Linked DNA regions of Homo sapiens. The protein of the gene in region 3 purifies or fractionates together with the protein of the main gene of each other region. This does not show direct contact. Each region holds a gene or a part of one and is shown on either strand. Other genes may lie near its edges.

Region 1 (3,500 bases), on a different chromosome or scaffold from region 3:
CACTGTCCTTCCCCCACCTTCTTATCAAAGGATGCTGGTGCTGGGAGGGGGAAAAGACAGAAAGAGGATTAGTCTCTGGCATGGTTTATGTTGATTTCAAAGCTGTCACTTTTCCCACATTGGGCCTTCTTTTTCACTGTGGATTTAAGTGCCTAGTCCCCTGATGAACGAAGGTCAAGGGCAGAGGTACATTTTGAACTAGAGAAAGTCCTCAGCATCCTCCTGCTCTCACAGCCTTACTGCTAAACACAGCAGTGGATGCAGAGGGTGGCACTGTGGAGCGGTGAGCAAAAACCAGGCTCAGGAGCCAGAGGCCTAGGTTCCAGTCCTGACTGTGCCTCTTGGTCAAGATGCTTCCCCCCAGGAGGTCCCAGTTCCCTTGTGTGTTAAAATTAGAGTACTGGATGCTTAGGCCTGAAACTCTGAGTATGGGGTTTCTGCTCAGTCCTTCAGCTCACACTGCCTCTCCTCCCCCGCTCCCTGAAGGCAGCCCCATCTCAATGGCTCACAGCATCTAGGCCCTCCTGGGCTTATTCAGCACCTGCTGGCAGACAGAGGTGGTCTCTCTCCCACCCCTTCCTGCTCCCACTGTCACCTGTCCTGAGGTCCATCCTAGGCCTTTGTCACTTTGTCATATGTGTGTTTTCGCATGCATGCCTCCTCCTCTAAGCTAACTTGGAAACCTCCAGGGTCATGTAGAGATTTGCACCATCAGCATCAGCCTGGCTCCTGAATGAATGAAGGGGAGAGGGTCAGGTTGGATGATCTCCTGGCCCACTGCACTCAAAGTATGGTCTACAATCCAGAGGCATCGCATCATGTGCAAAAGTGTTCAAAATGCAGCATCTCACCCTGCCCCAGCCCCTGCTCAGAACCTCCGAGGCAATCCCCACGTGATGCGCAGCACACTCAAGTTTGGAAAGTTCTCTTCCAACTCCTCCCTCCCTTGCTTCTACCACCTAGAAGCCTCCGGAACTATGGCCTTAGCAGGTCTCACTAAAACATAGCCCATCATTAACCAAAAGAGATCTGCCTTAGGAACCTTCTAGAAGCCCGCCACTGACTCTCACAAGCAGAATCTGAAATGTGTGCTCCCCGGGGGGACTCCTGGCACACATTACTCAGTGGCCCTCTCCGACCCTCAAGGAAGCCCAGGAAGCTTTCAAGAACGCTGAGGCGGCCAGGCGTAATGGCTCATGCCTGTAATCCCAGCACATTGGGAGGCTGAGGTGGGTAGATCACCTGAGGTCAGGAGTTCGAGACCGGCCTGGCCAATATGGGGAAACCCTGTCTCTACTAAAAATACAAAAATTAGCCTGGTGTGGTGGTACGCGCCTGTAATCCCAGCTACTCGGGAGGCTGGGGCAGGAGAATCGCTTGAACCCGGGAGGCAGAGGTTGCGGTGAGCTGAGATCATGCCATTGCACTCTAACCTGGGCAACAAAGCAAGACTCCATCTCAAAAAATAAAAATTAGGCTGGGCATGGTGGCTCACGCCTGTAATCCCAGCACGTTGGGAGGCCGAGGCGGGCGGATCACAAGGTCAGCAGATTGAGACCATCCTAGCAAACACGGTAAAACCCCATCTCTACTAAAAATACAAAAAAAAAAGAAAGAAAGAAATTAGCCAGGCATGGTGGCGGGTGCCTGTAGTCCCAGCTACTCGGGAGGCTGAGGCAGAAGAATGGCATGAATCCGGGAGGCGGAGCTTGCAGTGAGCCGAGATCGCACCACTGCACTCCAGCCTGGGCGACAGAGCGAGACTCCATCTCAAAACTAAAAATAAAAATAAAAATAATTAAAAAAAAAAAGAACGCTGAGGCCTGGCAGAGTCAGACAGACTGGCTGCCCACTCACCCACACGGATCCCATGTCCACGTTCAGAAAGCTCTCTTCCCTCATTTCTCTACTCTTGACATTTATTCAGCTTGTAAAGAAAAGGATCCTTTCCAAAACACGTCTTCAGTTTTTTAATAAACCCCGCAATTCCTTTAATGATTTCAGATTATCTTAAATATTTATAAAAATCACTCTCAGCAACACTTCTTTAAGCAAACCTCCTCATCAACTTCGATTATTTATATATTTATGAACACGATGTTCAAGGAGCAGATGGCAGCTAGTAAGTCCTCCAAAAGAAGGAAAAAAAAAATCAATGGGACAGAATGTAAGCTCCATGACTCGTCCATGTACTCTTCTCGACAAGCTCTGGTACAATTATCTTTCCATTCAGCGGAAGCGCCACACAAAAGTCCACAATTGGTTTAAAATAGCACACTTGGACTTCATAAAGCTTGGAGGCTCCAAGTTTAATCCAGGAATGACCTGCCAGCCAAGGGCTCTATTCCCAAAGGAAACTGAAGCTCTGTCAGGGGAGGGTAAGACATTGGATGCAGGGACAGATGATGGGACCAGGGGAGGGACAGAAAGAGCACCAGGGGCTGAGGGAAGAAACAGACATTGCTGAGCACCTCTAGGTGCCATGCTCTCTGCTGGGCACTTTCCATACAACCTCTGGGTTGATCGTCACAGCAACACTTCCAGGTGGCGACTGTTAGTCCTCATTTGAAAGATGAAGAGAAAGACAAAGAGAAAGGAAGTATCTTGGCCAAGGGCACAGAGCTAGTGAGTGGCAGAGCCAGGATGTGAACCCAGGCTGTAGGGCCCCAAAACCTTCACTGCCTCTAGAAAGAGAAAAGGAGGAGAGGAAAAAAAAAATATTGCTCTCAACCTCATGCATCCTAGGCTAACAAAGTTGCCTTTCTTTCAGCCTGGTGAGGCCAATCACCCATTTTAAGACTATCAAAGACTTAATTGCCAAAGTTCTACTGAAGCAAAAGGACCTGATCCATCTGAGAGCCCAGAGAAGGATGAAAAACAAGATTACAAGGCGTCCGTCTTCAACAGGCCTTTATCAAGTATCCCCTTTAGGGAAGAGAAAAAAAATCAATCCTTCACTCCTCCCACCCGAATTTCCTTCTTTCAAGAAGCTCCAATTCAAGCTAAAACAGAGAGATGAATCTGGCCTTTGAGACGCCTATACGCTTGCTGAGCAAACAGTGATTATTACTGTTGTTGATGATGATAACAATAATCATGGATGGTGATCACTATTATACGGGGTGTGCAATGGGAACAGGGGCCTATGCTAAGGACTTTGCTTATGCTACTGCCAGGAGCAACACATCCCCGTGACACATGCGCCCATTTTACAGATGAGAACACTGAGGCTCCAAGAAGGCAACAAACTTGGTTCCATGCACACGAGCAGTGAGAAAGAAAACCAAGGCATGAATTTGGATCTTACTCTCTTACTCAGGAGCCCTGGGAGACCAACGGGGATTCTTTTGCCTGTTTAGAGATGAGGAAAAGAGGGGGCCGAGAGTGTAGTGACCTCTAGAAGGCTGCACAGCCAAGAGATAGTGAAGGTGTGTCTGATAAAATTCATACTTAAAATCTGAATTTTCAGCTATACAACACTTCCTTTACAATGCTCAGTG
Region 2 (4,167 bases), on a different chromosome or scaffold from region 3:
TGCCGACTTGGCAGACGAGTCCATTCCAGGCCCTGCAGAGGGAAACGCCTAGCCCCCGGCAGGTGGGGGTGGGGGTGGGGGACGCGTAGCGGAGGCTTAAGTACGCCCCAGATGCCTAGAACGCTGCACTTACCTTCCGAAGTAAAGGTTTTACACAGTTCCCTGCGCACACAGGGTCCCCAGGGATCCTGAGAAGGAGGGCTTTTTTTCTTTTTTTTTTTTGAGCAGGGGTCCCAGACCAGGCCCCAGCCCACCCATGTAAAAGCAGTCAACCTACCTGTCTAGGCCAGATTGATAGCGCCTCCACTTCCCTTTGAGGCACCGTCCTTCCCCACTGCCCTCTCCTTACCCAGGAGGAAAGAGCCAGTTGTTGAGGCTGCTGCTCATTGAGTTTCTTGTTCTCTTGGTTAAAGCTACTGGTTCCTGAAGGTGGGTTACGTGGGTGGGGATGCTGTTGATTTTAAATATCTAGAATCATCCTTCTAATTCTTGGCTGAGCTACAGCTGCCTCAACCTCCAGAGTTGCCTATCTCACCAGAGAATTCAGGGCTTTTGGGTTGTTGGTAAGGCCACGACTTTTCTTCTCTCTCTCTCTAGTTTGCTCCTGCCTTCCTGCCTACTACATCTGATCTGTACACCTGATTTTTTTTTTTTTTTTTGCCTTGGCCACCTTCTTTAACCTTAATTTAGTAGCTTAGTCTCTGAACACATAATAGCAAACTCTCGGATGTCAGCACCTTCCCATCCCTGCAGTTCTTTTTATTTCTCGTTTCCCTCACCTGGTATGTCCACCACTCACCCTCTCCCAAGACCTCAGCAAACTTGTTTGCCCTATATACCATTTCCACCTCTGACCAGGAAATTCTGCAACCTGTGGGAATGGTTAGCTGGTGAGAATGTCCCTAGGGTCCTGTGTCCCCTAGCTTATAACCCTATTGCATGTGAACCTCCTTTTCCTGTCAGATCTCTCCTACAAGGCCCAGCTGCCTGTCCGGAGACTTGCAGGGTCAGCTCCTTGACATCCTAAGGTCTCTCTGACCTCAGGATTCTCAGCTGTCAGCTCTTGCCCAGGCTACCTCCTAGTCTCTTCCCATTTTGCTTCTTGCATGGGCTGGGGGATATGACACTTGTATCCAGAAACAGAGGCTTACAAATGGCTCTCTCTCCAAGCCTCTGCCTGTTAGTCATTCATTACCATATCAAGTCTTTTTGCCCAAAGTTGCCCCTGATTGGAGGCCTCAAGTACCAAATCACAGATCTTGCCCAATTATAATTTTGCAAATGGCCCAGTGAAAACCGCACTGACCTTTACACCTTGCTCATCCCAGAACAGGGCCACGGTGTTGTCACCAACAGGAATGGACCTCCTTCTGTTCCAATACCTCAGACAGCCATACACTTGGCCTGGATTTGAGTCTGCAAAACCATGAGGGGAGCAAGACTAACATGGCTAAAGGCTTCCCTGCTGAAAGCCGTTTTTTAAAAATAGCACTGCAACCGCCCCCATCATGCTTCCCAAAGCCAAGCCACTCACCCTTCTCTCCTTCGCTTCTACAGACCAACAGCCCAGAACCCTCAAGTCTAGAATCTGGAACTGGATTCTGAAAGGTGGGACCAAAAAAAAAAAAAAAAACAAGTGGGGCCTCTATCTCTCTCCTTGCCTGCATCCCCCTCTTCCCACCATCCCCCACCCCACCCCACCCCTTAACCACCACCTAGGGAAGGAAAACTTGCCAGAGTAAGAATCTAAAATGTTCAGTTCACCCAAAAGTGCGGCAGTAATCTTGCCAGAGCCAGTTCACAAACTGAGGGCAATGTCCCCCAGCGAGCTAAGGGGAACAGGAGAGAAGGAGAGGCAGTGGACCCAATGACACTGCTCCCCAGACAAAGAGAGGGCCAATCCAGGGACCCTGAGCTTTCTGGGGGCGTTATTGCATCATTCCAATCCCCACAGGAGAAGAAAAGGGTCCCCCTGTTATTACCATCCCCCCACCAAAAAAAGGGGAGGGGGATAAAGAAAAATAAAAGAAAGAGGGGAAGGCGCCCGTTTAAGAAAATCGTCACTTTTTCTCTTTCCTCGTGTGTGTGTGTGTGTGTGTGTGTGTGTGTGTGTGTGTGTGTAAGGGGCGGGGGGGTTCTACCCCGGACTTGGCCAGACCGTGGCCACACCCCCTCCCCTTTTCTAGGGAACTGCTGTCACAGCTACTGGGGCTGGGTAGGGGGGCGGGCGGGGGGGTGAAAGGGAAGACTTACAGGCTGACGTAGCTTTCAAGGCGGGTTTTGCCTCAAGCGGCCCAGGCCCCAGTAAACGAGTCTAGGGTTTGACCAAGCGAAGGAGCCCCGGCCCTCTGGGAACGGCCCTGACACACCCACTTGTCCGCGAACTGGGATCATGCAAACTGCTCGCTTGGTCTCAGGGCTCCGGGGAGCCACGTAGGAGACTCGAGGCTGGGGCACAAACAGGACAGGAGGGGGGTCCGGAAAGGCAGAACATCTGCCCAGCAGCCTTAAAGCATCATCCAACAGCCACCCCCTCCCCCGCGGTAGCCCGGGTGCAGTTAGTCGCGGGATTTACCTGCCACGGATCCAGCCACCCCGTCAAGACCTTTCCTCTACCTCCGAGCGCTCCAGCTGGCGGGGCTGGGGAGCCGCAGCCCCGCGGCCGCAGCCGCAGCCCCGGGCCCAGCCCGCTCCCCCTGGCTCTTCTCCCGCCCCCGCACACTGGCTCGAGGCGGGGAAAAGCTGCAGCCCCCAGTGCGAGATCCCAGACGGTTAGCTGGCACAGCTGCCCGCCCGCGGTAGAGCCCCTGCTCGGCAACCGCTCCCTAGCCCTTCTCTGCTATTACGTCACCCGAGCTCTGCACCTTACCTAGGCCAATCAGATGGTGAGCATAAAACTAAAATCGCCCTGAGTGGGCTACTGGGGACCAATCTTTTGTTTCCAGGCAGGAAGCGCCTGGGAGGGGGAAAAAACTGAAGGGGAGGGAACATGGAGAGGGAAAGGGAAAGGAGATGGAAACTTCTACACTGTCAGGGTTGTCTAGACAGAGGTGGGGCCATCAAAAAAGAGGGGCACCTGACAGGATGGAGAGGAGGGGAGAGTTCATGTATCTTCCTTAATTGCTCCCCTCAGGAGAATTGAGATTTCAGATGAATTTTCAGGGGACGAAATCTGTACAGCTACACGGGCACACTTTATTCGGGGGAAAAAACGGTTTCGATTTGGGACACCACCTGTCAGCCAGGCAGGTTAAACTGACGGAATCTCTAAAATACACAGAAAACTAAGAGAGACAGATGTGGCAGTGGAATTCAAAGAGATGGCAGTCTAGATCGGGAAACTACTTTTCTGCATATGAAGCACACACATTCCAAAAAGCAAGGAATTATACAAAAAATAAAAATAACTCTACTTCAAATGGAGCTTAAATGCGATTCTCTCTGTCCATCCTTTCCCTTAAACCTTCAAAGCTTTCTCTTGTCTTTAGGATACGGTTCAAATTTTTGCAGATGGCCAAAGCTTTATAAAATCTAACTCCAAAAATAATCTCTTGCTACTCCAAAATCCATACTCCCCATGATTTGGCTAGATTATGTAAATTATGGTGAATCCCAGCAAGGCGACAGTAAGCTGCCATAAAAAGTCAAATAATACAAAACAATAAGGACATTCAAATTATAATGATGTAAAATATGCCTACAGAAAACGATCAGAAGAGGACATAAAATTGTAACCGTTGGGTTAAACTAGTAGTATTATGAGTAACTTTTTCTTTCTACTTTCAAATTTATTTTCATAAAGATAAATATATCCTCACATACTTAAATGGCCAAAATAGATCATGACCCTTCCCAGTGAACTTTTATTCAATTTTCTCCACACTGTGTAACATCCAGCAATAATTTCTCCATAATGCCAACAAAATAGGTTTCAAGAACAAGAGTGAACTAATATATCTGCCCAGGTCCTTTTAGTAAAAGTCGTACAAAAGAGCTACAGATGACCACACGCGGTGGCTCACACCTGTAATCCCAGCACTTTGGGAAGCCCAGGCGGGCGGATCACCTGAGGTCAGGAGTTCAAGACCAGTCTGACCAATATGATGAAACCCCGTCTCTACTAAAAATACAAAAATTAACTGGGCATGGTGGCATGCGCCTGTAATC
Region 3 (3,500 bases):
TAAGCAACGCGGCACTATGTTCTCATTTATATGTGAGAGCTAAAGAATTTGAACACATGGAGGTAGAGAGTGGAAAAATGGATAACAGAGCCTGGAAAGGGGGTTTCCTACCCTGGAAAGCAGGGGGTAGGGGGAGGATGAAGAGGAGTGGCTTAAAGTCCACAAACATACAGTAAGAGAAAAGGAATACACTCAGTGTTTGATGGCAGAGTAGGAGGATGACACTTAACAAAAATGTATTGTATTCGGGTGACAGACACCCTAAATACCCTGACTCGATTACTATGCATTATATATGTGTAACAAATTTTCTCAAGTACCCCAGAAACTTGTATACACACACACACACACACACACACACACACAGACACACAGAGAGAGAGAGATAAATGTAGCACTGTAAAAAGTGGTGTTATAATGAAGAACCACTGAGGGTTGTTCTCTCAGAAAATGAATGAAAGCTGAGATTGCCAAATGCAGTTTAAATAATGTTTCCACCTCTTACCCGGCAGTCATTCAACATTCACAAAAGTTGATTTTTCGGATGCCTACTAGGCCAGCCACCACGTTAGGTGCCAGGGGTTACAGCAGTGATGGCAAATGCTATGAAGGAAGAGTTCTGCTAGAAGCAACCCTAGCTGGGGGCTAGGAGAAGGTTTGCCAGAGAAAGTGAGATTTGGGCCGAGAGCTACAAGGTAGGTCTGAATGAATGGGTGGAGAGTGTGGGGAGGGATGACGGGAGAGAAGAAGGAAAGCTGGGTGCAAAGGCCTTAAAAGAGAAGGGAGCCCAGGGCATGTGAGAGCTCAAGGGTGGTGTGGCCAAAGTACCGTGTCAAGAGGGAAGATGGCTGGATTTGAGGATAGGGGTGGGAGCCAGGGGCCGTTAGGACCTTATTAGCCATCTCATACTTTTCTTTTTCCTTGAAAGCACTGGGCAGCCACCAAAGGTTTTGAGCTGGGGAGTGATATGGTCAGATCTGTGTTTTCCAAAGAACTCTTTGGCTGCAGTGTGGAGAATGGGTTGGCTGGAGCAAGAATGGCCATGCACAGAGAAGGTGATGGTGACTTGGCCCCACGGGGAGGTGACAGCGGTGCATGGAAGTGAAATGACAGGAAGGTTATTTAGGAGTCAGAATAGAGATGCTGTGTCCAGAGAAAAGTTTCAGGTTTCTACAACTCGATGGATATCAACACCCCGAGAAGGGCACAATGGAAGAGGAAGACCAGGCCTGTGGAGTGTTGCTGGGCAGCTGGGTTTCATAGCTGGACCTATTCCAACTGGCCCCTCACTGCCAACACATGCAATCAGAAAACTGTAAACCAGCTTAGCTTACCGGTTCCGTTCCCTTTTCTCTTGTGACGTAGAACTGCTCCGGGGTTAGTTTCTTTTGCCACTCACTCTTGGCAAGAGGCAGCTCACACGTTGCAAGAGACCCTGTATTGTTAAACAGGAATTTTAAAAATTAAAACAAAAATGCCTGATGGACTTTTCTTCCTTGACCTTTTTCCCTAAGTGTACTGTCACCCAGCAGAATAATCCAGTCCCTTCCTCTCTCTCCCACGAGTTTATTCTTCATGGGGACCAGAAGGCTCAGGCACAAAATGCCTTCATTGACTATTTAATTTAATAAGAAATTAACAAGAAGTAGAGAGCCAGTTTTCTAGTCTTCCTGGGGCACAGAAGTGAAAGAGGCAGCTGAAATATGAAAGAATGCGGAATACATTCCCTTCGGGTACCTAAGGGTAGAAACTGATCCTCTCTTCTCTGATGACTTTTAGAGGAGCAGTTGCTGTCAGAATCTAGCCAGAAGTAGTTGAGGCATTGGGCAGAAAAGAACTGTGAGCTAGTCGGTTATTAAACTCTTCTCCCTTGCTAGTTTATAAGGATATCTCTGATTTTCTTTGTCAAGGGAGGTCTCTATTTTAAAAATCTTCTTGCATGGAACAAAAGAAGAAACTCCCATAGCATATAGTCCTGAAAGAGAAACAGACCTACCATAATCTATTATGATGCTTCATGGTTTTTGTCCATATTTTGTTTTCTTCTTTCCTACTCACCTTGGCATCTATATTACTACATTTATTCACGTGAGTGTAAACCAAGTAACTAGAGCAATACTCTCTTTAGCCAAAGGGAGTAGGAAGCCCAACTCCTATAATAAATGTTTTTAATCATCCAACATTAAGAATCTGAAAGGATTTTATAATGTGTCCAACTCTTCAGTTTGCAGATGAGAAACAGAGGCCCAAAGGGTTAGTAATCTGACTATGGCACTGAAGATGAAACGTTGAATGCCCGTGATGCCAGCACCTATATATCAAACACGTCAGAAGTTACAGTTGAAATTCATTTTAGGTTACAAAAAAAGTCCTAAATTATCCTTCGGCAAGAAAAGACTTATCTCCTCTCCAGTTTATAATACTGAACAATACTGCATTTCCAGTGATACATATAGTTGATTGCTTACATTTTGCTAAAAGGTTTTTAGGCTATTTAATATATTAAAAGTTTTCTTCTTTCTTTTTATTACTGTTATTATTTTTACACAAGGGCTCCCCTAGGAGGTATCTTTTATTAAATACAATCTTTATAAGACTACAGGGGTTTCTTTTTGCTATGAAAATAGATCTCTGAAATTCCTATGGAATATACCTCAGTTAACACATGATTTTTGGGGTATTCGACACTTTGGGAACAAAACAAAATGTATTTATGTGATAATTACTATTGCTCAATGGCCTTCAGAGTTATCACGCAGAATGTCAAGTAATAAATGAAGAAGGAAGTATAGAATTTTTAAAATCACCATTTTGTAAAAATCATCAGAGGATTCTAAAACCCCTGGGTGAAAGACTACTGGGGAACAGATAGTCACATCTTCTCAAAATACAACCCCAAAGTTTATTAATTACAAAAAAGAAAATGCCACTACTTTAACCAAGTAGGCTAAGTTAGCATCACCAACAGTGGGACAAGTGACATCCTGTCTTCCTGATGTGATGCTCTGGAAAGGACACAACATCACCAGTAAAGTTTTCCTGCTGAAAACATTCAATCAGTGTCTCATGAAGAAAAAATCACATAAGTGAAAATTGAGGGAAATTATTCAAAAGAAGGACTGTCCACAACTAAAACCAATGTGTGACCCTTTATTAAATTCTAGATCCCAGAAAAAAAAACAAGAGCTATAAAAGACATTGTTGGTATATGGTGGGAAATTTGAATATCAACTGTGTATTAGACAAGGGTGCTCAATTTCCTGAGAGGAAAACTGTCTTGCAGTTTTGTAGGAAAACATCTTTGGTCTTAGGAAACATGCCGAAATATTTAGCAGTAAAGTGTCATGATGTCTGCAACTCTCAAATGGTTTAGCAAGAGAAATATAAATAAGTAAGTGTGAGTGTGTGAGTGTACGTTTGCGCGTGTGTGTCTCAGTGTTGGGGAGAGAGATGGGGAAGAGCACATGAATCTAGAAAGGAACTGCATCTCTATGAGATTT
Region 4 (3,500 bases), on a different chromosome or scaffold from region 3:
CAGCCGGGGCCCTCTGGGACAGACCAGACCTACTCTCAGGAGACCCCCTCCTAGGGGCGGTGCCGGCCTCACCTCGCCCAGCTTGTCAATGCCGCCCTCGTTGATGACGTTCAGGTTCATGTCCGTGACCTCCTTGAAGAAGACATCTCGCACCTCAGTGAAGCCCTGGCTGGTGGGGACCATCAGGGCCTCCAGGATGGATGGGATGTAGGGCTGGACATGGTTCCGCACGCACACCTCTGCCTTGGGGAGGATGAAGGCTGTGCCCCGAGGGAGCCGGGTCAGCAGGGGCTCCCCAAGGAGCACCTCCCAGCCATCCCAGAGCCCAGGTGCTGGAGGCTACTGTATTACTATTATTATCATTATTATTATATTTTTTTTGAGACGGAGTCTCGCTCTGTCGCCCAGGCTGGAGTGCAGTGGCGCGATCTCAGCTCACTGCAACCTCCACCTCCCAGGTTCAAGCAATTCTCCTGCCTCAGCCTCCTGAGTAGCTGGGACTACAGGCGCGTGCCACTGTGCCCAGCTAATTTTTATATTTTTAGTAGAGACGGGGTTTCACCATGTTGGTCAGGCTGGTCTCAAACTCCTCACCTCGTGATCCACCCGCCTCGGCCTCCCAAAGTGCTGGGATTACAGGCATGAGCCACCATGCCCGGCCTATTATTATTTTATTTGAGACAGGGTCTTACTCTGTTGTCCAGGCCGGAGTGCAGTGGAATAATCAAAGCTCACTGTAGCCTCAAACTCCTGGGCTCAAGCAATCCTCCCACTTCAGCCTCCTAATATTATTATCATTTTTATTTCAACTTTTATTTTAGATGCAGGGGGTACACTGCAGGCTTGTTCCATGGGTACATTGTGTGACCCTGAGGTTTTGGGTAGGATTGATCTCATCACCCAAGTAATGAGCACAGTGCCCAAAAAGTAATTTTTCAGCCCTCTCCCAACTCTCTCTTCCCATCATATTATTATTGTTATTAATTTTTGAGACAGAGTCTCGTGCTGTCGCCCAGTCTGGAATGTAATGGCACGATCTCAGCTCACTGCAACCACTGCCTCCCAGGTTCAAGTGATTCTCATGCCTCAGCCTCCCAAGTAGCTGGGATTACAGGTGTGCACCACCATGCCCGGTGATTTTTTTTTGTATTTTTAGTAGAGACAGGGTTTCACCATATTGGCCAGGCTGGTCTCAAACTCCTGATCTCAGGTGACCCGCCCACCTCGGCCTCCCAAAGTGCTGGGATTATAGGCGTGAGCCACCGCGCTCAGCCCCCATCAATACTTTTATTATTATTATTATTTTAAGAGGCAGAGTCTCACTGTGTTATCCAGGCTGGTCTCAAACTCCCTGGGCTCAAGTGATCCTCCTGCCTTGGCCTCCCAAGTGCTGGGATTACAGGCATGAGCCACCGTACCTGGCCAATATTATTTAAAAAAAAAAACCACTGGGGGCAACATTAGCAAGCTGAATGATTTCAGAGAAATAGTGGATAAAGATGAGAAATCCATGCAGGAAAAATGACAAGGTGTTCTGAGATTGGACTCTGATCTTTCTGAAACCATGATGGCAAAAAACTAAGAAAACTGCCATCTGACAAGAGATTAATAATCAGAAAATATAAGGATCTCAAACAAGTCTATAGGAAAAAAATCCTAGTAATCCAATTAAAAATGGGCAAAAGATTTGAATACATATTTCCCCAAAGAAGACATATAAATGGCAAACAGGCATATGAAAGGTACTCAACCCAAAACAGGCATATGAAAAGGTACTTGACATCACTGATCAGAGAACTGCAAATCAAAACTACAATGAGATGCCACGTCACCCCAGTTAAAATGGCTTTATCCAAAAAAAAGAAAATAACAAATGCTAGCGAGGATGTGGAGAAAAGGGAACCTCCGTACACTGCTGGTGGTGTGAAAGGAAAATATCTTAGGCCCCCAGAATTACGAAGCTAAAGGGAAAAGTCAAGCTGGGAATTGCTTAAAGCAAACCCACCTCCCGTTCTATTCAAAGTCACCCCTCCGCTCACTGAGATTAATGCATATCTGCTTCCCTCCTTTGGAGAGGCTAATCATCAACTCAAAAGAATGCAACTATTTGTCTCTTTTCTTCCTATGACCTGGAAGCCTCATGCCTGCATTGAGTTGTCCTGCTTTTCCTTCAAGTTCTCCCGCCTTTCCGGACTGAACCATGTTCATTTTACATTTTTTTTTTTTTTTTGAGACAGGGTCTCACTCTGTTGACCAGGCTGGAGTATAGTGGCTCGATCTCGGCTCACTGCAGCCTCTGCCTCCCAGGTTCAAGCAATTCTCATGCCTCAGCCTCCTAGAGCAGCTGGGACTACAGGCATGCGCCACCACATCCAGCTAAGCTTTGTATTTTTAATAGAGACGGGGTTTCACCATGTTGGCCAGGCTGGTCTCGAACTCCTGACCTCAAGTGATCCACCCGCCTCGGCCTCCCAGAGTGCTGGGATTACAGCTTGAGCTGCTGTGCCCGGCCCATTTTACGTATGTTGATTGATGGCTCAGGTTTCCCTAAAATGTATAAAACCAAGCTGTGCTCTGACCACCTGGGCACATGTCATCAGTTCCTCCTGAGGCTGTGTCACGAGTGCGTGTCCCCAACTTGGCAAAATCAACTTTCTAATTTAACTGAGACCTGCCTCAAATTTTCAGGGTTCACAGTGGGAATGTAAATGAGTACAACCACTATGGAGAACAGTTTGGAGGTTCCTCAAAAAACTAATAGAGCTACCACACAATCCAGCAATCCCACTGCTGGGTATATACCCAAATAAAGGAAATCAGCCCATCGCAGCGATATCTGCACTCCCGTGTTTGTTGCGGCTCTGTTCACAACAACCAAGATTTGGAAGCAACCTAAGTGTCCATAACAGACGAATGGATAAAGAAAATGCGGTACATATACACGATGGGGTACTATTCAGCCGTAAAAAAGAACGAGTTTCAGTCATCTGCAACAACATGGTTGGAGCTGGAGGTCATTATATTCAGCCAGGCACAGAAAGACAAATATCACATGTCCTCACTTATTTGTGGGATCTAAAAATTAAAGCAAATTGACATTTTGGAGGGGGCCTCCCCTGTGGGAGCAATAAAAAAGGTAAAAACAGACAAATAAACAAGCAGAAAACAAAGCAATTGAGCCCATGGAGATAGAGTAGAAAGATGGTTACTAGAGGCTGGAGAGGGTAGTCGAGGGCGAGGGGGAGATGGGAATGGTTAATGGGCACAAAAAGTAGAAATGTCAGAGGCATTTGAATCAGAGCAACTGTATCTTAAATAGGAGCTGGGTAAAATGAGGCTGAGACCTACTGGGCTGCACTGCCAGGCGGTGAAGGCATTCTAAGTCATGGGATGAGATAGGTCGGCACAAGATACAGGTCATAAAGACCATGCTGATAAAACAGGTTGCAGTAAAGAAGGTGGCCCAAAACCCACCAAAACCAAGATGGTGATGAGAGTGA

The links.
Region 1: the proteins of MSRB2 (region 3) and CYRIB purify together in Homo sapiens (co-immunoprecipitation; one large-scale study listed by IntAct). This does not show direct contact.
Region 2: the proteins of MSRB2 (region 3) and PAK3 purify together in Homo sapiens (affinity purification with mass spectrometry; one large-scale study listed by BioGRID and IntAct). This does not show direct contact.
Region 4: the proteins of MSRB2 (region 3) and NIBAN2 purify together in Homo sapiens (co-immunoprecipitation; one large-scale study listed by IntAct). This does not show direct contact.

The regions. Positions count from the first base shown.
Region 1 is NC_000008.11:130,010,061-130,013,560, forward strand, and holds part of CYRIB (CYFIP-related Rac1 interactor B), read right to left. Parts: intron 1,261-3,500; exon of another isoform or gene 596-1,260; intron 1-595. UniProt on the Homo sapiens protein: Negatively regulates RAC1 signaling and RAC1-driven cytoskeletal remodeling. Regulates chemotaxis, cell migration and epithelial polarization by controlling the polarity, plasticity, duration and extent of protrusions.
Region 2 is NC_000023.11:111,094,824-111,098,990, reverse strand, and holds the start of PAK3 (serine/threonine-protein kinase PAK 3), read right to left. Parts: upstream 2,801-4,167; 5' UTR 2,576-2,800; intron 2,449-2,575; exon of another isoform or gene 2,254-2,448; intron 1,602-2,253; 5' UTR 1,535-1,601; intron 1,417-1,534; 5' UTR 1,307-1,416; intron 1-1,306. UniProt on the Homo sapiens protein: Serine/threonine protein kinase that plays a role in a variety of different signaling pathways including cytoskeleton regulation, cell migration, or cell cycle regulation.
Region 3 is NC_000010.11:23,102,079-23,105,578, reverse strand, and holds part of MSRB2 (methionine-R-sulfoxide reductase B2, mitochondrial precursor), read right to left. Parts: intron 1,436-3,500; coding exon 1,335-1,435; intron 1-1,334. UniProt on the Homo sapiens protein: Methionine-sulfoxide reductase that specifically reduces methionine (R)-sulfoxide back to methionine.
Region 4 is NC_000009.12:127,510,074-127,513,573, forward strand, and holds part of NIBAN2 (protein Niban 2), read right to left. Parts: intron 261-3,500; coding exon 73-260; intron 1-72. UniProt on the Homo sapiens protein: May play a role in apoptosis suppression. May promote melanoma cell invasion in vitro.